Regions from separate parts of the Homo sapiens genome. Here regions 2, 3 and 4 are each linked to region 1. Evidence: fine-mapped expression QTL. A gene starts in region 1. Each other region holds a variant in brackets. All regions are shown on one strand. Distances are between the middles of the regions.

The links. PIP is the estimated chance that this variant, and not a neighbour inherited with it, causes the effect.
Region 2: its variant is the best candidate, but not a certain one, in a credible set for the expression of LINC02604 in gastroesophageal junction (GTEx, PIP 0.76).
Region 3: its variant is the best candidate, but not a certain one, in a credible set for the expression of LINC02604 in naive CD4 T cells (Schmiedel 2018, PIP 0.76).
Region 4: its variant is the best candidate, but not a certain one, in a credible set for the expression of LINC02604 in prostate (GTEx, PIP 0.51).

What each region holds. Positions count from the first base shown.
Region 1 is chr7:66,901,549-66,907,014 of GRCh38, forward strand. It overlaps LINC02604 (long intergenic non-protein coding RNA 2604), which reads left to right and starts at 2,572. Exons shown (of 1, transcript NR_136637.1): 1 at 2,572-4,749.
Region 2 is chr7:66,853,558-66,859,023 of GRCh38, forward strand. It overlaps the pseudogene GTF2IP23. Among named protein-coding and RNA genes, the nearest start is that of LINC02604, 48 kb to the right of the region's middle. The variant G/A (reference allele first, on the strand shown) is at 2,167.
Region 3 is chr7:66,783,426-66,788,891 of GRCh38, forward strand. It overlaps RABGEF1 (RAB guanine nucleotide exchange factor 1), which reads left to right. Exons shown (of 9, transcript NM_014504.3): 4 at 250-416. Among named protein-coding and RNA genes, the nearest start is that of RABGEF1, 45 kb to the left of the region's middle. The variant G/A (reference allele first, on the strand shown) is at 2,454.
Region 4 is chr7:66,665,908-66,671,373 of GRCh38, forward strand. LOC100996437 (a long non-coding RNA gene) reads left to right here. Exons shown (of 4, transcript NR_110037.1): 2 at 1,491-1,703; 3 at 2,857-3,006; 4 at 3,323-3,695. It also overlaps a transcript of RABGEF1 not described here. Among named protein-coding and RNA genes, the nearest start is that of KCTD7, 40 kb to the left of the region's middle. RefSeq lists enhancers at 189-929, 930-1,669. The variant C/T (reference allele first, on the strand shown) is at 2,345.

The sequences.
Region 1 (5,466 bases):
AGTGACCTCTTTAGGCTCATCTCATGCTTCACCGTGGCCTCGCCAAACCAAGCTGCTGCGTTTCAGCAGCCTCTGCAGCAGAGGCCGAGCTCTGCGTCCTGATCATCCTGATGGCCTCTTTAGGCCCAGCTCATTTCTCACAACGGCCACCTTAGGCCCAGCTTTTCCCTTTTGGTGGCCTCTCCAGGCCGAGAAATTCCTCAAGTCGGCCTCCCCCACCGCAGTTGCTGCCTCCCGGCCTCTTCTCCAGTCCCAGTCCTCTCTCGCAGCTGTGTCTACAGGCCCAGCTCCTGCCTCCAAAGAGCCTCTTTTGACTCGGCTCCTACCCAGCTCCTGGCAGCCTTTGTAGGCCTGAAATCTCTTCCAGTCCAGCACTCCATACCCAGTCTCCCCTCACAGCGGCCTTCCCAGGCCCAGCTTTTGCCTCACAGCGGCCTTCCCCGGCCATTTTCTAGCCGGCCTCGCGGTAGCCTCAACAAGCCCAGCTCCCGCCTCACACTGGCCTCTCTAGGCCCAGCTCAGGCGTCACAGTGGCGTCTCCAGGCCCAGCTCCCGCCCACCCCAACAGCGTCTCGCGGCTCAAGGCGTTCTCAAGATGGCCCTTCCAGGCCAAGTTCCTGCCTCCCGCCGATGGCCCGTGTGGGCCCAAAGCGTCCTGAAGTCGGCCTCGCCAGGCCCAGCTCCTGCCTGTCGTAGGCGCCTAGAGGCATGGCCTCTGCCTCCTCACAGTGGACCCCCCCAGACCCAGCTCTTGCTTCAGCATGGCCACCTCAGGCCAAGCTCCTGCCTTGCCTGTTGGCAGCCTCCACAGGCCCAGCTCTTGCCTCTCGCCATCCTCTCCAGGTCCAGAACTGTTTCCAGCCGGCCTCTCCAGGCCCAGCTCTCCCTCCCGGCTGTGGCTGCCGGCCCAGCTCCTGCCTCGCAACAGGCACGTTCGGCCCAACTCCTGCCCAGCTCATGGCAGCATTTGTAGGCCCCAGGCTCCTCTAAGTCAGGCCTTCCAGGCCCTGCCTTCAGCTCCCTGGCGGCCTGGAGAGGCCCAGCTCCTGCCTGACAGCGGCCTCTCCGGGCCCAGCTCTTGTCTCGCGTCGGCCTCCCCGGGACACATTTCCCCCTGCCTCGCGGCAGCCCCGAAAGACCCAGCTCCTGCCTCCTGATGGCCTCTTTAGGCTCATCTCATGCCTCACTGCAGCCTCCCCCAGGCCAGGCTCCTGCCTTTCGGCGGCTTCCGCAGGTCCGGCTCCTGCGTCCTGACGGCCTCTTTAGGCCCGGCTCGTCCCTCACAATGGCCTCTTTCAAAGGCCCAGCTTTTCCTTCGTGGCGGCCTCTCCAGGCCCAAATTGGCAAGCCTCCCCTGTCCTGGTGGCTGTCTCCCGGCCTACTCTCCAGGCCCAGCACACTCTCGCGGCTGTACCTCCAGGCCCAGCCCCTGCCTGCAGACAGCCGCTTTTGACTCGGTTCGTGCCCAGCTCCTGGCGGCCTTTGTAGGCCCGAAACCTCCTCCAGCACAGCTCTTCAGGCCCACCTGTGGCCTCGCAGCGGCCTTCCCAGGCCCAGCTCTTGCCTCACGGCGGCCTTCCCCGGCTGTATTCCTGCCAGCCTCTCGGCGGCCTCAAAAAGCCCGGCGCCTGCCTCACACTGGGGTCTCTAGGCCCAGCTCACGCCTGACGGTGGTCTCTCAAGGCCCAGCTCCCGCCCACCCCGACCGGCCCAAGGCTTTCTCAAGTTGGCCCATCCAGGGCCCAATTCCTGCCCTCCGCTGATGGCCTGTGCAGACCCAAAGTATCCTGAAGTCGGCCTCGCCGGGCCTAGCTCCTGCCTGTCATAGGCCCCTAGAAGCACGGCCTCTGCCTTCTAAAAGTGGAACCCCCCAGTCCCAGCTGTTGCCTCAGCGTGGCCACATCAGCCGAAGCTCCTGCCCTGCCTGTTGGCAGCCTCCATGGGCCAAGCTCTTGCCTCTCACCATCCTCTCCAGGCCCAGTACTGTTTCCAGCCGGCCTCTCCAGGCCCAACTCTCCCTCTCAGCTGTGCCTGCCGGCCCAGCTCCTACCTCGCAAAAGCCACGTTCGGCCCAGCTCCTGCCCAGCTCCTGGCAGCCTTTGTAAACCCCAGGATCCTCTAAGTCAGGCCTTTCAGGCCCTGCCTTTGGCTCCCCGGTGGCATGGAGAGGCCCAGCTCCTGCCTGACAGCGGCCTCTCCAGGCCCAGCTCTTGCCTCACGTTGGCCTCCCTGGGCCACGTTTCCGCCTGCCTCGCGGCAGCCCCGACAATCCCGGCTCCTGCCTCCCGATGGCATCTTTAGGCTCATCTCGTGCCTCACCACGGCCTGCACCAGGCCACACTCCTGCCTTTCGGTGGCCTCCGCGGGCCTGACTCCTGCGTCCCAATGGCCTCTTTAGGCCCGGCTCGTGCCTCGCCGCGGCCTCCTGAGGCCCACCTTTGCCCTTCTGGCAGCCTCTCCAGGCCCAGGACTTCCTCAAGTCGGCCTCTGCCAGCCCAGTGGCCGCCTCCCGGCCTCCTCTCCGGGCCCAGCTCCTTGCTCGTGGCTGCGCCCGCGGGCCCAGCTCCTGCCTCTGAACATCCTCCTGTGACTCGGCTCCTGCCCAGCTCCCAGCGGCCTCCGTAGACCCGAAGCCTCCTCCGGTCCAGCTCTCCAGGCCTGCCTCCTGCCTCGTGGCGGCCTTCCCCGGCCATGCTCGTGCCGGCTTCCCGGCAGCCTCCACGAGCCCGGCTCCTGCCTCACGCGGGCCCCTCCAGGCCCAGCTCGTGCCTCGCGGCGGCCTCTCCAGGCCCGGCTCCCGCCCAGCCCGACGGCGTCTCCCAGCCCAAGGCTCCCTTCCTCAACGTCGGCCCCTCTGGGCCCAGCTCCTGCCTCCCGCTGATGGCCTGTGCGGGCCCACCCGAGGCGGCCCGAAGTCGGCCTCGCCAGGCCCAGCTCCTGCCTGGCGTAGGCCCCTGGGGGCACGGCCTCTGCCCCACAGTGGCCCCTCCGGGCCCAGCTCGTGCCTCGGCTTGGCCGCCTCAGGCCCAGCTCCTGCCTGTGGGCGGCCTCTCTCCAGACCCGGCTCTCGCCTCCCGGCATCCTCTCCAGGCCCAGAGCTGTTTCCAGTTGCTAGACCATTTTTGTGCCTGCCTCGTTGCAGCATCTCCAAGCCCAGCTTTTGCTTTTCTGCAGTTTCTTGAGGCCGAACTCCATTTTTCGAATGGCTTATTTAGGCCCAGCTCTTGCGTTTGCATTGTCCCTTCAGGCCCAGAACTTTCTCACGTCATCGTCACCAGGCCTAGCTTCTGCATCTGGTCAGCCTTTTAAGGCCCAGCTTTTGCCTCATAAACTCAGCTCCTGTTTAATGGCGGCCTCCCAGGTCCCACCTTCTGCCTTCCTGTGTCCACTCCAGGCCCAGCTACTGCCTTGGTGCTCTTTTTAAGTCAATAATTTTTTCCAGTCGACCTCTCCAGGCCCAACTTGTACCTCTGAGTGTCCTCTAGGATCTCAGCTTCTGCCTAACAATGACCTCTTTAGACTCAGCTCATTTTCACTGCTACATCTTCAAGCCATTCTCCTGCCTCTTGGCAACCTCTAGTGGCCCAGCTTCTGCCTCACAGCAGCCTCTCCATGCATGCCTAGCTCCTGCCTCTTTAGGGAACTTACAGGCCTAAAACTTTCTTAATTTGGGCTTCTCAGGCCCAGCTCCTGCCTTCTGTTGGCCTCTACAGGCCTGGCATCATCCTTTCAACAGCCTCTTTAGGCCCGGCCTCTCCAGGACCAAAACATCCTTAAGTCAACCTCACCAGGCCCGGCTCCTGTCTCCTTGCGGCCTCCAGAGGCCGAGCTTTTGCCTGCCAATGGCCTCTCTAGCCCCAGCTTTTGCCTGCCAATGGCCTCTCTAGCCCCAGCTTCTGCCTTTCATCGGTCTCTCCAGGCTTAGCTCCTTTCTCTTCACGGCCTCTGCAGGCCTAAAACTTCCTCAATTTGGCATCTCCAGGCCCAGCTCCTGCCTCCAGGCCGCCTCTGCAGGCCTATCTCAAGCCTTACAACAGCCTCTTTACCCCCAGCTCCTTTCTCCGACTTGTCTCTCCAGGCCTAGAACTTCCTCATGTTTACCTCACCAGGCCCACCTCCTGCCTTCCAGTAGCGTCTACAAGTTTGGCTCCTGCCTCCCATGGATCTCTCCAGGCCCCAAACTTTCTCAAGTCAACCTCACCAGGCCCGGCTTCTCCCTTTCATCAGCCTTCCAAAGGCCAGCTTTTGCTTCATGTCTGCCTTCCGAGTCCCAGCTCCTGTTTTATGGCAGCCTCCTGAGGCCCAGCTCCTGCCTCCTAGTGGCCTCTTTTGGCCCAACTCTTTCCTCACCAGGGCCTTCCAGACCACGTTCCTGCCTTTTAGCAGCCACTACAGGCCCAGCTTTGCGTCCTTTCAAGAGTCCTGCCTCACAGTGGCCTCCCAAGGGCAACTTTCTGCCTCATGTCAGCCTCTTGTGCCCTGGTCCTGCTTCCTGGTAGACTCTGCAGGCCCTGCTCCTGCCTTACGTTGCCCCTTTTATAAAGATCCAGTTCCTGCCTCCTGGCTGCCTCTATGAGCCCAAATCCTGCCTAACAACAACCTGTTTTTGCCCAGCTCCTGCTTCCTGGCAGCCTCCTTAGGCCAAAAATTTCCTTCAGTTGACCTCTCCAGGCCCAGCTCCTGCCTCTCAGCACCCTCTTTAGGCCCAGCTCCTGCCTTAATAAATTTGAATAAATTATTGTTATGTGATTATTATGTGAAACATTTTTTCTTCAAAAGGTAATGAAAATTGAGGTAAAGTATAAAAGTCTAGCATATAAATTCCTCTATTGTCACCCTTCGTATTAGTCACAGTTCTCTAAAGGAGCAGAACTGTTAGGATAGATGTATATATATAAGGGAGTTTCTTAAGGGGTATTAACTCACAGGATCACAAGGTTCCACAATAGGCTGTCTGCAAGCTGAGGAGCAAGGAAGCCATTCTGAGTCCCAAACCTGAAGAACTTGGAGTCCGATGTTCTAGGGCAGGAACCATCCAGCATGGGAGAAAGATGTAGGCTCGGAGGCTAAGCCAGTCTCACCTCTTTATGTTCCTCTGCCTCATTTTTATTTTTGCCACACTGGCAGCTGATTAGATTGTGCCCACCTAGTTTAAGGGCGGGTCTGCCTTTCCCAGCCCCCTGACTCAAATGTTAATCTCCTTTGGCAACACCCTCACATACACACCCAGGAACAATACTTTGCATCCTTCAGTCCAATAGAGTTGACAGTCAATATTAACCATCACAAGTTCACCCCTTGTCAACTTTAACCCATACACATCTTCTGAAATTATACATAATCTTCAAATAAAGATAATAATAAGGTCATAATTGTGCCTAAGATAATAATAAAAGTATTCTTCATACAACTGGAAATGCACCAATCCTGAACCCAAATGCCCTTATATAAAACTAACACTTAGAT
Region 2 (5,466 bases), 48 kb before region 1:
GAAGATTATGTGCAGGCTGGCCGTGGTGGCTCACACCTGTGATCCCAGCACTCTGGGAGGCCGAGGTGGGTGGATCATGAGGTCGGGAGATCGAGACAATCCTGACTAACAGGATGAAACCCCATCTCTACTAAAAGTACAAAAACTTAGACGGGTATCGTAGTGGGCACCTGTAGTCCCAGCTACTCGGGAGGCTAAGGCAGGAGAATGGCATGAGCCTGGGAGGCGGAGCTTGCAGTGAGCCGAGATCCCGCCACTGCACTCCAGCCTGGGTGACAGAGTGAGACTCCATCTCAAAAAAAAAAAAAAAAAAGATTATGTGCAATAATTATTTAATGCTTGACATTGTTTTTTTAAAATGGTACCTTCCACATGAAATAATATGCTTGTAACTATTAATTATGTTCCAGGACAGGAGAATTCATGTTGTCAAAATTCTTTTTTTTTTTTTAATTTTTTTTTTTCTTTTTGAGACGGAGTTTTGCTCTTGTTGCCCAGGCTAGAGTGCAGTGGCACAATCTAGGCTCATGCAACCTCTGCCTCCTGGGTTCAAGCAATTCTCCTGCCTCAGCTTACTGAGTAGCTGAGATTACAGGCATGCGCTGCCACACCCGGATATTTTTAATAGAGTTGGGGTTTCTCCATGTTTGTCAGGCTAGTCTCATACTCCCAACCTAAGATGATCCACCCATCTCGGCCTCCCAAAGTACTGGGATTACAGGTCAGAGCTACCCCGCCCGGCCTCATTTGTTAAAATTCTAATACTCTCTAAAACAGTGAACTCATTTTCTTTTTTTAACCCATTATAAATACATGTAAATGTTGCATTTATGGGTAGACAGAACTAAAAGAACAAAATTTGGCCTACTTTTGAGATGCAAGATTTATCTGGCATAATGCATTGAACAGGTTATTATTGAAGTCTACACCAGTCACTTGAACAAGCATTCATGAAATGTCCATGATACCCAGGACACAAGAATGTTTCCTTTTAGAGTATAGAGCCATGCATATCATCTCTTAATTGTTTAGATGTGTTTCGAAAGAAATAGAAATAGAATTGGTTTTCTTACTTGTTTTGCCTCTGGAGTGAAATGGGGACAAAACAGAATGGAATCACACTGTTAAGATTTACTAAAATGGAAGGATTGCAGCAAGATCATATCCCTAGTCTCCCCATAGCAAATGGCACCTGCTAGCTGTTTTCTTTTCTTTTTTTTTTTGAGATGGAGTCTTGCTCTGTCACCCACACTGGAGTGCAGTGGCGTGATCTCAGCTCACTGCAACATCCATCTCCCAGGTTCAGGCAATTCTCCCTGGCTCAGCCTCCCAAGTAGCTGGCATCACAGGCACCTGCCAAAAGGTCTGCGTAATTTTTGCATTTGTAGTAGAGTTGGGGTTTCACCATGTTGGCCAGGCTGGTCTCAAACTCCTGACCTTAGGTGAGCCTCCCACCTTGGCCTCCCAAAGTGTTGGGATTACAGGCATGAGCCACTGCGCCTGGTCATATGTTTTTTTATAATGTTGTTTTATTTTAGGAAAGTAAATACAATGAGTAGGACTCAGCTCCATCAGCTCCACAATTCTCTTACTGTTTTTTTTTTGTTTGTTTTTTTTTTGAGATTGAGTTTTGCTCTTGTTGCCTAGGCTGGAGTACAATGCTGTGATCTCAGCTCACTGCAGCCTCTGCCTCCTGGGTTCAAGCAGTTCTCCTGCCTCAGCCTCCTGAGTAGCTGGGATTACAGGTGCCTGCCACCTTGCCTGGCTACGTTTTTATTTTTAGTAGAGACGTGGATTCACCATGTTTGCTAGTCTGGTCTCGAACTCCTGACCTCAGTTGATTCACCTTTCTTGGCCTCCCAAAGTGCTGGGATTACAGGTGTGAGTCACTGCACTTATCTGTAATGGGATATTTCACTGCAGACTTTGATGAACAGAACATTAGCATTTTTGGTGGTGTTTTTATTTTACTCATAATATTTTTCTTTGGACTCAATTACAGTAACAGAAGTAAAGATCAAATTATAAAAATTAAAGAGCAATACAGATTCAATAATTATTCTTTTCTACATATTGTGTTTAAATGATACGCTTTTTTCTTTTTGTCTTTATAGCTCAAGCTGTAAAAGCCAAAGGTCCACCCCTTTTTTCCAGTCTCAAGCTGAA[G/A]ATCTTTATGTAGAAGGCCTTCCCCACAGGAATTTTTTTTTTTTTTTTTTTTTTGTGACAGAGTTTTTACTCTTGTCGCCTAGGCTGGAGTGCAATGGCATGATCTAGGCTGCAGTACAATGCTGTGATCTCAGCTCACTGCAGCCTCTGCCTCCTGGGTTCAAGCGATTCTCTTGCCTCAGTCTCCTGAGTACCTGGGATTACAGGCGCCCGCCACTACACCAGGCTAATTTTGTATTTTTAATAGAGATGGGGTTTCACCATGTTGGCCAGGCTGGTCTGGAACTGCTGAACTCAGGTGATCCTCCTGCTTCAGCCTCCCAGAGTGCTGGGATTACAGGCATGAACCACTACGCTAGGCCAGGAATTTTTGTTGTTGTTGTTTTTGTTTTTGTTTTTGAGACACAGTCTTGCTCTGTGCCCAGACTGGAGTGCAGTGGAGCAATCTCGGCTCACTGCAACCTCCGCCTCTTGGATTCAAGTGATTCACTTGCCTCAGTCTCCTGAGTAGCTGGGACTACAGGCGCAAGTCACCATGCCTGGTTAATTTTTTTGTATTTTTAGTAGAGATGGGGTTTCTTTTTTTTGAGACGGAGTCTCGCTCTGTTGCCCAGGCTGGAGTGCAGTGGCACGATCTCGGCTCACTGCAAGCTCCGCTTCCCGGGTTCACGCCATTCTCCTGCCTCAGCCTCCCAAGTAGCTGGGACGATAGGCGCCCGCCACCACACCCGGCTAATTTTTTGTACTTTTAGTAGACATGGGGTTTCACCGTGTTAGCCAGGATGGTCTCGATCTCTTGACCTCGTGATCCACCTGCCTCAGCCTCCCAAAGTGCTGGGATTACAGGTGTGAGCCACCGTGCCTGGCCAAGACAGGGTTTCACTATGTTAGCCAGGCTTGTCTGGTAATCCTGACTTCATCATCCACCCGCCTTGGCCTCCCAAATTGCTGGGATTCAGGCATGAGCCACTTTGCCCCACCAGAAATTTTTTTAGGAAGGCTATCCACTTACAGAATTCCTGGCTTTGAGAGGATATTACTTGCAATGGAAAGGATTTGTTTTGTGATTAAAAAGTAAGACTCCTGGATTCTTATTTGACTCTTATCTCTCTTGTGAGTAATACATCTTTTTTATTGTTGACAAATATTTACCACTACGGTTATATTTACTTAAGTTTGACTTATATTATGGGGTTTTTTTTTTTTTTGATGGAGTTTCTCTCTGGTTGCCCAGGCTAAAGTGCAATGGTGTGATCTCGGCTCACTGCAACCTCTGCCTCCCAGGTTCAAGTGATTCTGCCTCAGCCTCCTGAGTAGCTGGGATTACAGGCATGTCCCACCAAGCCCAGGTAATTTTGTATTTTTACTAGAGACAGGGTTTCTCCATGTTGGTCAGGTCTCAAACTCCTGACCTCAGGTGATCCACCTACCTCAGCCTCCCAATGTGCTGGGATTACAGATGTGAGCCACTGCACCCGGCCTATTTTAAGTATTTTTATCTTCCACTTTTTAATATATCTGGGTCCAACATTGAGTCAGTCGTGCCAGTGTTAGCTTTTGAAACATGAACACTGCCCACACCTGACTAGCATGCAACTGACATTTTCTTTCACAGTTTTCTGCTACTTTTGCTAAAGAAAATAGTATCCGTGTCTTGTTTTTAGGCCTGAGATTTTTGTGGCATATGTGGGAATATATGATTGTTTTTCTAGTTGTGTAGAGGAAGATAGTCTTGAATGCAATGTGATATTAAAGGATCCCATTTAAGATTTTTGTAATATGCTTCAAAGACCTGTGGGTTGCAGAGTTACCACTTTACTTGTGAGAACACATGCTCCATGAAGCAGCTTATGAGACAATTTACAATATTATTTTGTTTCGTTACTCTGTAGAAACCTCAAATGAAGATTTAGTTGTGCTCAATCATCCAGATTGTCTTTTCTTAATTTTTTTTTTTTCCAAGATGGAGTCTCTTTCTATTACCCAGGCTGGAGTGCAGTGGCATGATTTCGACTCACTGCAACTTCCACCTCCTGGGTTCGGGCAATTATCCTGTCTCAGCCTCCTGAGTAGCTGGGATTACAGGCACCTACCACCACGCCCAGCTGAGTTTTGTGATTTTAGTACAGATGGGGTGCCACCATGTTGGCCAGGCTTGTCTCAAACTGCTGACCTCGTGATCTGCCTGCCTCTGCCTTCCAAAGTGTTGGGATTTCAGGCATAAGCCACCATGCCCAGCCTGCCTTGTCTTTTCAAAACCACCCTTGGTGATTAAATGTGAAATATGTACTAGTGGATATTACTTTGCTGAATATTGCCTAGTGAATATTAAGTATTTATTCTTACCTTTCAGACATGAACTTATGAATTCAACACATGAAGATTTACAGCTTGACAAACCAGCTTCAGGAGGTAGGCATTCAGTCTTAAGTCAGATTAAAAGATTATGTGCAATAATTACCTAATGCTTAACATTTTTTAATGATGCCTTCCATATTAAATAATATGCCTCTAACAATTATGTGCTAGGACAGGAGAATTCATATTTTCAAAATTCTAATACTCTCTAGAACAGTAAACTCATTTTCTTTTTATTAACCCATTATAAATACATGTAAATATTGCATTTATGGGTAGACAGAACTAAAAGAACAATGTTTGTCCTACTTTTGAGATGCAAGATTTTATCTGGCATAATGCATTGAACGGGTTATTATTGAAGTCTACACCAGTCACCTGAACAAACATTCATCAAATGTCTATGATACCCAGGACATAAGTTTTTCTTTTATAGTATGGAGCTGTGCATATCATCTCTTATTGTTAGATGTGTTTTGAAAGAAATAGAAATAGAATTGATTTTCTTACTAGTTTTGGCTCTGGAGTGGAGTGGGGACAAAACAGAATGGAATTACACTCTTTAGATTTACTAAAATGGAAGGATTGCAGCAAGATCATATCCCTAGTCTCCCCATAGCAAATGGCACCTTCTGTTTTTTTGTTTGTTTGTTTGTTTGTTTTTGAGATGGAGTCTTGCTCTGTCACCCACACTGGAGTGCACTGGCATCATCTCAGCTCACTGCAACCTCTTTCTCCCAGGTTCGAGCAATTCTCCCTGGCTCAGCCTCCCAAGTAGCTGGGATTACAGGCAGCTGCCACCAGGCCTGCCTAATTTTTGTATTTTTAGTAGAGATGGGGTTTCACCACGTTGGTCAGGCTAGTCTCGAACTCCTGATCTCAGGTGATCCACCTGCCTCGACCCACTGAAGTGGTGGGATTATAGTCGTGAGCTGCCATGCC
Region 3 (5,466 bases), 120 kb before region 1:
AGAACAACTTTTATTTCAGTAGGAATATCTTTTAGATAATGTAGTTTTGTCTACTCATACTTCCTACTTGTAAAACAGATTTAGTTTACTTTAAGGAAAGTTGTCCAACCATTCAAACATAAAATTATTTAAATTCAAGTTTAACTTTGATGAAACATAATTTAAATAACCTTAGGTAAGATACTTAAAGTAATTCCATGCATGGATCTTTTATGTCATGAAACTTACTATGTTTAATTTTCCCAGCAGAAATTCAGGAAGCAAAAGCTCCCAGTCCTTCCATAAACCGGCAAACCAGCATTGAAACGGATAGAGTGTCTAAGGAGTTCATAGAATTTCTCAAGACCTTCCACAAGACAGGCCAAGAAATCTATAAACAGACCAAGCTGTTTTTGGAAGGAATGCATTACAAAAGGGTAGGTTGAGAATAACCACGTAGAAACATAGAGTTTTGGTTTGAGGAAAGGTCTTAGAGATAATATAGTGCAACCTTGTCATTTTATGCCTGAGAAAAATCCAGACCAAGAGATGTTAAATTACTTACCTAAGAAAAGCCTCTGAATCAAGCTAAAACCCAACTCTTAGGCTAGTACTTTTCCACTGCAACTCAGTGGTGTTTGGATCATCTTTGTGTGGAAATTCTGACCTGAAGCCACTTGAATTATGTGCTTTAGTAACAGGCCTTTTTGACTTGTGACCTTGTAAATAGTATAAACTGCGATAGTAGACCTTTAACTCTGTGCAACCATTGTTAGGCCAGTGGCAGTAATTTTAAGGGTTGTTGTTGTTGAATTCTGTTTTGTTTTTTGTATTTTGATTTTGAATTTTTTCATTCAGTTAGAGAAAGGACAGATAGAATTTAGACAATGAAAGGGACTTTAGCAACTATGGAGTTTCAGTCCCTTTATTTTATAGATGAGGAAGTTGAGAGCCAAAGAGGATAAGTGACTTGTCCAAGGTTACACAGCTAGATTTTGCCAATGTCAACCAGAACTTGTGATTTCCACACCTGTTTCTTTTACCCATAATTTCAGTGGCAATAATTAATAAGACTGCCTGTAAAGGAATTCATTTTGTAAATAGGGATTAATTCTGTTGTAACATTCTATAACCATTAAACTCAGAATTAGCTCTGAAAGTTCCTTCTATGCAGTAAGGAAGTCTTAGAAAGAAAAAGGAAATTAGAAAAGCAGCAGGGTGTTTAACTGTTTAGCTATATTCTAGCTGGGGTCAGCAATCACTAGGCTAATAAGCAGTGGACTTGTGTCAAAATAATTTTTAGATATTGAATTCAGTTTGTAAAGGAGAAAAGCTTGCTTTCTCGCCCTTCAGAAATGTAATTAGACTGTGTAAGTAAGTAGCTGTCTTTCTCTAGGTATTTTTTCTCTCTAGAGTAAAACATTTAGAGTCAAAACAAGTGAGCTGTTATTGTTTTTTTTTTAAGTTAGGAAACATGATAGATATCCTTAATATGGAACAATTCAGAGTTCATATGACACCATCTTTCATTTTTATCAGAACTAAAAACTGAGGTTTTGTATTTATTTTTTTCTTGAGCCCACATGAAATGTTCACGGGATAGCTATATTAAGTTAGTGTATGTATACTGTAGTACATATAGCATGTATGCTGTATAATATGTTTTAGAAAATTGCTCAACTCAGATTTGGTATTTTTCTTTTGCTCAGAAGTGTGATGTGTTCTTACTCTGTAATAATTTAGTAGACTTCTAAATGAGTATACTAAAGTAAAGAGGTAATTAACTGGTACAAATATCACAATGCCTATTTGTAAGGCATCACTAGTTTATATCAGAGACCTGCATATGGCCTCAGATTCCTCCTGTTTTAAGAGCCACTAAGCCACCTATTTTCCATTTCTACACTATGTGTTTCATGGTTAGGTGGCCAAGTCCTATGCATGTATCTCAGGTATCTTTAGTGTGAAGTCTGCACATACCATATATGAAAGAGATGTTTTTTAAACTGAATGTCCCTAGAGAAGCCCTTTTGGCCTTTGTCTGCAAGTTAATGTCCTTTCAAATAAATAAATAAACACTCTTTACACCTGAACTAACATAACTAGCTTCAGATCACTAATCATATAAATTTCTTGGGGCAGTTCCTCTGAAGTTGTGAAGAATGTGGTAGTATAAAATAGCCTTTGTGGCCGGGTGCGGTGGCTCACGCCTGTAATCCCAACATTTTGGGAGGCCGAGGCAGGCGGATCACAAGGTCAGGAGATAGAGACCATCCTGGCTATCACGGTGAAACCTTGTCTCTACTAAAAATACAAAAAATTAGCTGGGCGTGGTGGCAGGCGCCTGTAGTCCCAGCTACTTGGGAGGCTGAGGCAGGAGAATGGCGTGAACCTGGGAGGCGGAGCTTGCAGTGAGCGGAGATTGCACCACTGCACTCCAGCCTGGATGACAGAGCGAGACTCCATCTGGGGGG[G/A]AAAAAAAAAAAGTCTTTGTACTCAGTTCTTCAAAACTGCGCAAAACCTTTAAATTAATGTTATTACCACCAACTAAACTTTCTAGATGGTATCCTAAGGGCCTATGCAATATGAAAATCCATTCTTACCTGTTTAAAAACTGCCCAGTCAGCCTTGCCATAAATGGATAATTGTTCCTACTGCATCCCACAGTATTATTCTTTCTAAAATTTCTGAGATCCAGGAGAGTGATCTGCTCTTGCCCACATCTTTCCCACATCATTTCTGTTTTCTCCAAGCCCTGTATATGCCGGTGGTGAGCAGCCTTTTCAGCATATGGGTCAAGTCTAGAAAATTAAATCTTTTCCGAACTGCATTAAAATTTTTAAGCCATTTTATCTTTATCAAGAAACACCTTGTCTACACTAAGATGTTTTTTGTTTTTAGAATTTAAATTTCAGCACCTACGTAATTTTCATACCCACTGCAGTATGGCAGTATAATGCTTTACTATGCAACACACTTCTCTTTCTTTCCTTTCCTTTCCTTTTCTTTCTTTTTTTGAAGCAGTGTGTTGCTCTATCTCCTGGACTGGAGCACAATAGCGCAGTTGCTGCTCACTGCAGACTTGACCTCCCAGACTCAAGTGATCCTCCTGCCTTAGTCTCCTGAGTAGCTGGGACTAGTGGCACACACCACCATGTCTGGCTGAGTTTTTTATTTTTTGTAGAGACAGGGTTTCCCTATGTTGCCCAGGCTGGTCTTGAATTCCTGACCTCAGGTGATCTTCCCAACTTGGCCTCCCAAAGAGCTGGGATTATAGGTGTGAGCCACCGCGCCCAGTGCTATTCAGCAAATGTTGTTTGCTAATATTTTTCTGAAGCTTGTTTATTTTGCTCTTTTTTCTTTCTTGCTAGTCTTACTAGCCACTTAATGTTAAAACATGTATACTCTTACAGTACTTCTATACATTCTTTAAAACAAGATATTTCCATTGCAAATGAGACGGGCAGCTATGTCATTAACACAAAATCCTTTTATGTTGAAAATATAGTTGCCATCAGCTACTTTTCTGTTCTTACAAATCATCATAGCAAGAATTTAAATTGCTGAGCCAAATTAATAAAGCTTAATTTTTAAAACCTAATCTGTACAACATAACTTGAATTATTATTATTTCTTTTTGAGATAGGAGTCTTGCTCTGTTGGCCAGGCTGGAGTGCAGTGGTGTGATCTCTGCTCATTGCAGCCTTTACCTTCCAGGTTCCAGTGATCGTCCTCCCTCAGCCTCTCGAGTAGCTGGGATTACATGCATGTGCCACCATGCCCAGATAATTTTTACTTTTTTTTTTTTTTGTAGACACAGGATTTCACTATGTTGGCCAAGCTAGTCTTGAACTCCTGACCTCAAGTGGTCTGCCCGCCTTGGCCTCCCAAAATCTTGGGGTTACAGAAGTGAGCCACCATGCCTGGCCTGATTTTTTTTTTTTTTTTTTTTTTTTTAAGATAGAGTCTTGCTCTGTTGCCCAGGCTGTAGTGCAGTGGCGTGATTTCGGCTCACCCCAACCTCTGCCTCCCAGGTTCAAGCAATTTTTATGCCCCAGCCTCCCGCATAGCTGAGATTACAGGTGTGCACCACCATGCCGAGCTAATTTTTTGTATGTTTAGTAGAGATGGGGTGTTACTCTGTTAGCCAGGCTGGTCATGAACTCCTAGCCTCACATGATCCGCCCACCTTGGCCTCCCAATGTGCCGGGATTACAGGATTGAGCCACAATACCTGGCCTAACTTGAATTTAAGAATCTCACCTTAACCAAGCTTCACACAGGTCTGAGAGTGATTATGGATTCAGGAGTATATATAGTCACTTATGAAGAGGTATACATTCTCTTTGTCATCTGGACAGAGCTTCATGTGGTGAGGGCAATTTTAAGGCACTGTATAGACCCAATCAAGTGTTAACCTTTCCCATAATAACTAGAAAACCATATTACCTAACTGAATGAGATCTGTGGCTTTGTAAATAACTTTTTTCTGTAAATTATTTATATGAAAACGCTCACTGTAAGACACATGTTTAGACTGCAATTAAATAAAAGTAAATAAAACTTCTGGAAAAACTCTTTTGCTGCTCAAACTATTTAAATCCTGCCCTTGCTAAGTGTTAATAAATCCCTCAGATACATTTTTTCCCTATTCTGAAAGTGTAGCTTGTCCTGCTTTTAAAGGGGGCAGGCTCTACTTCCTCAAAGTACCTACCCTTTAATTTGTTGGGTATTGCAGTAGTGCTTTTTAATAAACTTGGGGCTGGGCGAGGTTGCTCACACCTGTAATCCCAGCACTTTGGGAGGCTGAGGTGGGTGGATCACGAGGTCAGGATTTCGAGACCAGCCTGGCCAATATGGTGAAACCCTGTCTCTACTAAAAATACAAAAATTAGCTGGGCATGGTGGCGCTCGCCTGTAGTCCCAGCTACTCGGGAGGCTGAGGGAGAAGAATCACTTGAACCCAAAAGGTGGGGTTGCAGTGAGCTGAGATCATGCCACTGCACTCCAGCCTGGGCAACAGAGCAAGACTCCATCTCAAAAAAAAACAAAAAACAAAACAAAACAAAACACCCCTCATTTTTTGGGTTTCTCAATTCAGTTATTTTTATTTTTTTAATTTGTATTAGTCCCTTAATACTCCATTCATGGCAATCAATTCAGTTTCTAAAAGACTTCTTAATAGTCATTCTGATAAGCTCTTCTTTCTAAGGAAGCAGTTAAGCACAACATAACACCTTTTGCTTGTTTCATTGTTATTTTTCTAGCCAGTCCTATAAAAATCTGATACTGAGCTGGGCACAGTGGCTCACGCTTGTAATCCTAGCACTTTGGGAAGCCAATGCGGGTGGATCACCTGGCCAACATAGTGAAATCCCGTCTCTACTAAAAATACAAAAAATTAGCTGGGCGTGGTGGCGGGTGCCTGTAATCCCAGCTACTAGGGAGGCTGAGGCAGGAGAATCACTTGAACCTGGGAGGCCAAGG
Region 4 (5,466 bases), 240 kb before region 1:
TGTTAGAACGGAGGGACTGCACGGACCAGGTGGAGGTCAAGGAAGGCTTCTTGGAGGTGACATAGGAGCTGGCCTGCGAGGCTGAGTGGGAATATTTTGGGTGGAAAGACCACGGAACAAGCATTTCCGACAGAGGAAGCAGCTATTGAAGAGGGAAGGTGGTTGTGTGCTGGGGAAACCTATGTGGTTCTCCATGGTCATAACAGGATGCCTGGGGCGTGGGGGGCAGAATGTCAGCCGGCAAAGTGGGGACCGGAGTACCCGGGAAGCTGGGATGAAGGAGCCTCCTCTGCAGGTAGGGACAGGGCCCTCTGAAGCCGGGGAGGGGACGGGGAAATGGGGAAGGGACCACAGTGGAGTCTCTCCAGTTGTGCTTAGAGACCACCTGCCTTCATATCACCCGAGGAGTCCCAAAATGCAGATTCCAGGGCCTGGGGCTCCACCATCCCAGCTCTGTTGGTTGCAAAAAACCTGGGAGGGAAGAGAGACAGCCCCCTCTTAGCCTAGTCAGGGCCTGGTGCAGTTTGGGGACTGTTTGCTGAGGGCAACTGAGGCCGAAGTGAGCCAGGCGGGCCCTAGGGTGCCCACCGCACACCCCCTCTGTGCCAGGCTCCCAGCTCAGGGTATTGGTGGGCACTCCAGTGATGTTTCCTGGCAGGGAGAGGGCTCGTTTCTTGCCTCCTTCTGAGGCAAGTAGGGGCAGATGTTGAGCCTCTGGGGTCCCTGGCCCAAGGCTGCAGGTCCTGGCTGCTCACAGCCGGCGGGTGGAGCCCTGTCTGGCCAACACCCTTGCTCTTTATCTATGTCTCAGCAAGGGAAGGTACCCAGGTTAGTGTCCAGCTGGGTGGGCGTCCAGGCTTTGGCAGCAGTGCCAGCCTCCCATCCGGCCCTGGAGATGGTCCCCTGAGTTCCAGGGCTCCTTGGAGAGGTCAGGATGGGCAGAAATTTGCAGGGGCAGGGAGCTGGCACTGGGGTTGGGGAAGCCTTGGGCAGACACAGCCTCTCCACCACAGTAGGGAGCTGGCCTCAGGCAGCAAGGCACTGCAGGTGCCCCAGAGACACAGGCTGAACCCCAGACCAGTTGAGCCAGGGTGGGAAATCATATGTCCACTCCAGACAGCCCTGGGGCTCTGAATTTGCATTTGGGAGCATGCAATTGTCTCCTCCAAGGCTCTGGTGGAGGGGATTTGAAATAATCCCAGCCCAGGGAGGGTGGAGCATAGGGACAGGGCCCAGAGAGGGTCCAAGGGCACCACAGGAGGTTTGCCACCTGAGCCCGGGGATCAGGAAGGGCTTGGCCAGTGCTGAGCACCCTTAGTGCCTGGCACGGGCTGAGACTCAGGGGCCGGCCATGCCTCTCCTGAAGCAGTCCCTGTTGGTGGGCAGGCAGGTGGGGTGGGCTGGGGGCTGTGCACAGCCACTCATATCTTCCCCGTTACTTCATCCATTTTGTTCCCGCTGATCCCTTGTTTATCTCACTGGGAATGCAGCCTCGGTGGAAGATGGGGCCAAGGGAAAGTCCAGAGCCTGGGCCATCTCCAGCCTCACTCACCCTCCTCCCTCACCTGGTCCCTGGGCTGAGGATCATGGCCCGGCCTGAGAACCCCCAAGGCAGCATGCAGAGGCCGGGTCTGCACCGAGCCCTGACACTGACAGGCTGTGTGACGACGACTGACAACTAACCCTCTCTGGTTTTACTTTCTGTAAGTGACTTGGGAGGTTGTTCTGAATGACCTTTGAAAGGGATGAAAAATTGGTATTAATAAGCCTGTCATTTCATAAGCATCTACTCTGTGTCCAGCCCTGTGCAGGTCCCTGGAGTCTCCTCTCACCGAATGCTCCCACGTCCCCAAGAAGTTCCATTATCCCATTTTACTTATTTATTTATTTGTTTATTTATTTATGTTTGAGATGGAGTCTTGCTCTGTCGCCCAGGCTGGAGTGCAATGGTGCAATCTCGGCTCACTGCAACCTCTACCTCCCGGGTTCAAGTGATTCTCCTGCATCAGCCTCCCTAGTAGCTGGAATTATAGGCACATGCCACCACGCCTGGCTGATTTTTGTATTTTTAGTAGAGACAGGGTTTCACCATGTTGGGAAGGCTGGTCTCGAACTTCTGACCTCAGGTGATCTACCGGCCTTGGCCTCCCAAATTGCTAGGATTACAGGTGTCAGCCACCGCGCCTGGCCCCATTTTACTTATTTTTAGAGACAGGGTTTTGCTCTGTCACCCAAGCTGGAGTACAGTGGTGCAAATATAGCTCACTGCAACCTTGAACTCCTGGACTCAAGTAATCCTCCTGCCTCAGCCTACCGAGTAGCTGGGACCATACACCACCATGCC[C/T]GGCTAATTGTTTAATTTTTTTGTTTTTAGAAATGGGGTCTGGCTATGTTGCCCAGGCTGATCTCGAACTCCTGGCCTCTAGCCATCCTTCTACCTCAGCCTCCGAAAGCGTTGGGATTACAGCCGTGAGCCACCATGCCCAGCCCCACTATCCTATTTTAGACATGAGACTGAGAGAATGGCCGGGAGTCCCTCCAGCTGGCATCTTGCAACTTGAATTGCTGAGGTTTCAGGTGCAGGGGTGTCCCCAGATGGTTGTGGAGATGGAGACCAGGTTGGAGAAGACCCTCTGGAGAGGGGGGGATTGGCATAGGAAGTGAGGGCTATTGTGGGCCGGGGGTGAAAGCCCAGCAGGGCCAGTGTGGGAGAACGTCACTTAGGAAGCTACCAGAAAGATATGCCAGACTCCTGCCAGGCCTTGTCACTGCAGAGCCCCTGGCAAGAGAGGGACATTTGTGGACCCTGGAGGCTTGCGTGGGATGGGCCTTAATCCCCACTTTCTTCCCTGGAAGATCACCTCTTAGGCAGAGCAGTGGGCGCAGATGCCATGGCGGGAAGCAGGCCTTTCTGAATTCTTAGCAGCGATCTCCAGGGGCACTCTAACCTTGCAAGAAAGAGGCTGCCAGTCTTGCATCAGATGCAGAAACCAGGGCGCAGAGTAGGTGAGTAATCTGCTTAGAGCCACACAGCTGTGAGTAGCAGATCCAAGTGCAACCTGCCTGTCCCAGGAGCTTGCGGGCTAGCTAGACCTTTGCTGCCTAGAAGACCCTCTTGTGAGTCCCCTCCCTGGGCTCAGCAACCCGGGAGGGCATGACTTCTGGCTGGGTCTTAGGGCTGGAGCCTTGGTGTCCTCTTGTCTTCTTTCCTTGTGTGACTTGGTTTTCCAGTCTGTGAAATGCGGTGGGTGCATCCAACTCCAAGCCTGTCTCTGCCCTGGGTCCTGGAGCCTGGAGGACGAATGAGGTCATGTTTTTCTAGGAGCTAGAGCATCTTGGATGGAGAAACCTCGGCAAAGACAAAGGCCCATTGTCCCCCTTCCCCGGCCTTCTGCCAGCTCCCTCCCCAGTCACCAGAGGAGGCCAGCCCTGCCCACCCCACAGCCCCCAGAGGCTGCCAGGCGCCAATATGGGGTAACTCAGCGCCCCCTCCCTTGCCATTGGTTGACGATGCCTGGAATCCCACCATCAGAGCTTTGTTAAGGTTGCTGTGGGATGGGTGGCAGGGAGGCAGCAAAAGACAAGAAGGTGGTGGGGACCTCTGGCTTGTGGATTTCATAATCAGACCTTTATGGTGGGCTTGGGTAGGAGATCAGGCAATACTAAATAATAATAAAAACAAATTTCACACTTGCTTTTCAGTAGCTTTGGCATGAAACCTTTATAAGCATTATCTCAATGAGGCCCACAGAGCTCTGTCAGTCATTAGCCAGGCAGGACAAATAACAGCTTGAACATAATGCGTCCAAAAGTCAACTCTTGGTTCCTTCCCCAGCCTGCCCCTCCTGTGACTTCCCCGTCTCGGGAAATGGCACCATCATCATCTACCTGGTGGCTCCGGCCAGAAAACAGGGAGGCATCTTTGGATCATCTCACCCTCACCACCCACACCCGGGCCACCACCAAGACTCTTCAATTCTACCTCCAAAATAAATCCCTACCCCACTTCCCTCTGTTCTCGTTGCCACCCCTGTGTCAAGCCATCACCAGCTTGGCCCTGGAGGCCAGCACAGCCTCCTTCCCGCCTCCCTGCCTCCTCTCTACCCCCAACAGCCAGAATAACTTGCAGAAAATGTAAATCAGGCCCCATCTCATTCTCCTTCTTAAACCGCCCCTTTCCCCAAGGGCTTCCTATTGCATTTGCACCAAAATCGACACCCCCCAAATAGCTCTGAGGTTCACCATGACCTGGTGCTGCCTCACCTCCTCCAATTTCACTGTCCCCTAGTTCTTTTCCCCTGGAATCTGTGTGTTTGCATAAGCTGTTCCCTTTGCCTGGATGCTCTTCCCTGCAATTCTTTCCCCACTGGTCCCTTCTCATACTTTAGGTCTCAGCTGGGAGCTTACTTAAACTTTTTTGTTTGAGATGGAGTCTCATGCTGTCACCCAGGCTGGGTGACATAGTACCTAGAAGAGGAGATGACATATTGATGGAATTTAATAAATGGGCTTATTGAATGAGATGATTTTTTTTTTTTTTTTTTTTTTTTTTTTTTTGGCTAGAGGACACAAAGACAGCCAGAGAAATTCCAAATAACACACACTGGCTGGATGAAATTGCTTCAGTGATAGATATTTAAACAATTTTTATTTTTAGCTGGGCGCGGTGGCTCACACCTGTAATCCAAGCACTTTGGGAGGCCAAGGCGGGTGGATCTCTTGAGGCCAGGGGTTCAAGACCAGCTCACTACAGCATGATGAAACCCCATCTCTACTAAAAATACAAAAGTTAGCTGGGTGTGGTGGCTCGCGCCTGTAATCCCAGCTACTCAGGAAGCTGAGATAGGAGAATCGCTTGAACCCGGGAAGCAGAGGTTGCAGTGAGCCGAGATGGCGCCACTACACTCCAGCCTGGGTGATAGAGCAAGATTCCGTCTCAAAAAACAAAACAAAATTTTATTTTTATTTATTTAATACACATACGTATACACACACACACACACACACACACACACACATATGTGCTCTGATGCACTGGAGCTTCCACTGGTCTTACTTAATGTGTGTGATACTCTCATTATTTATGTATCTATATATATCTATATCTATATTTATATATATATATAGAGAGAGAGATAGAGAGATGGGATCTTGCTGTGTTGCCCAGACTGTCTCAAGCTCCTGGCCTTGGGCAATCTTCCCACCTTGGCCTCCCAAAATGCTGGTATTACAGTATTTAATTTTTAGGTGTTTTTTGTTTTTTCGGGGGCTGCATTTTTGGAGATAGGGTCTTGCTATGTTGCCCCGGGTGGAATGTAGTGGCTGTTCACCAGTGCCATCATAGCTCACTGCATCCTTAAACTCCTGGCTCAAGCAGTCTTCTCCCCTCAGCCTCCTGAATAGCTGGGACTACAGGCATGTGCCACCACACCTGGCTATCCTACGCAATATGAGACCAGGAAGTTG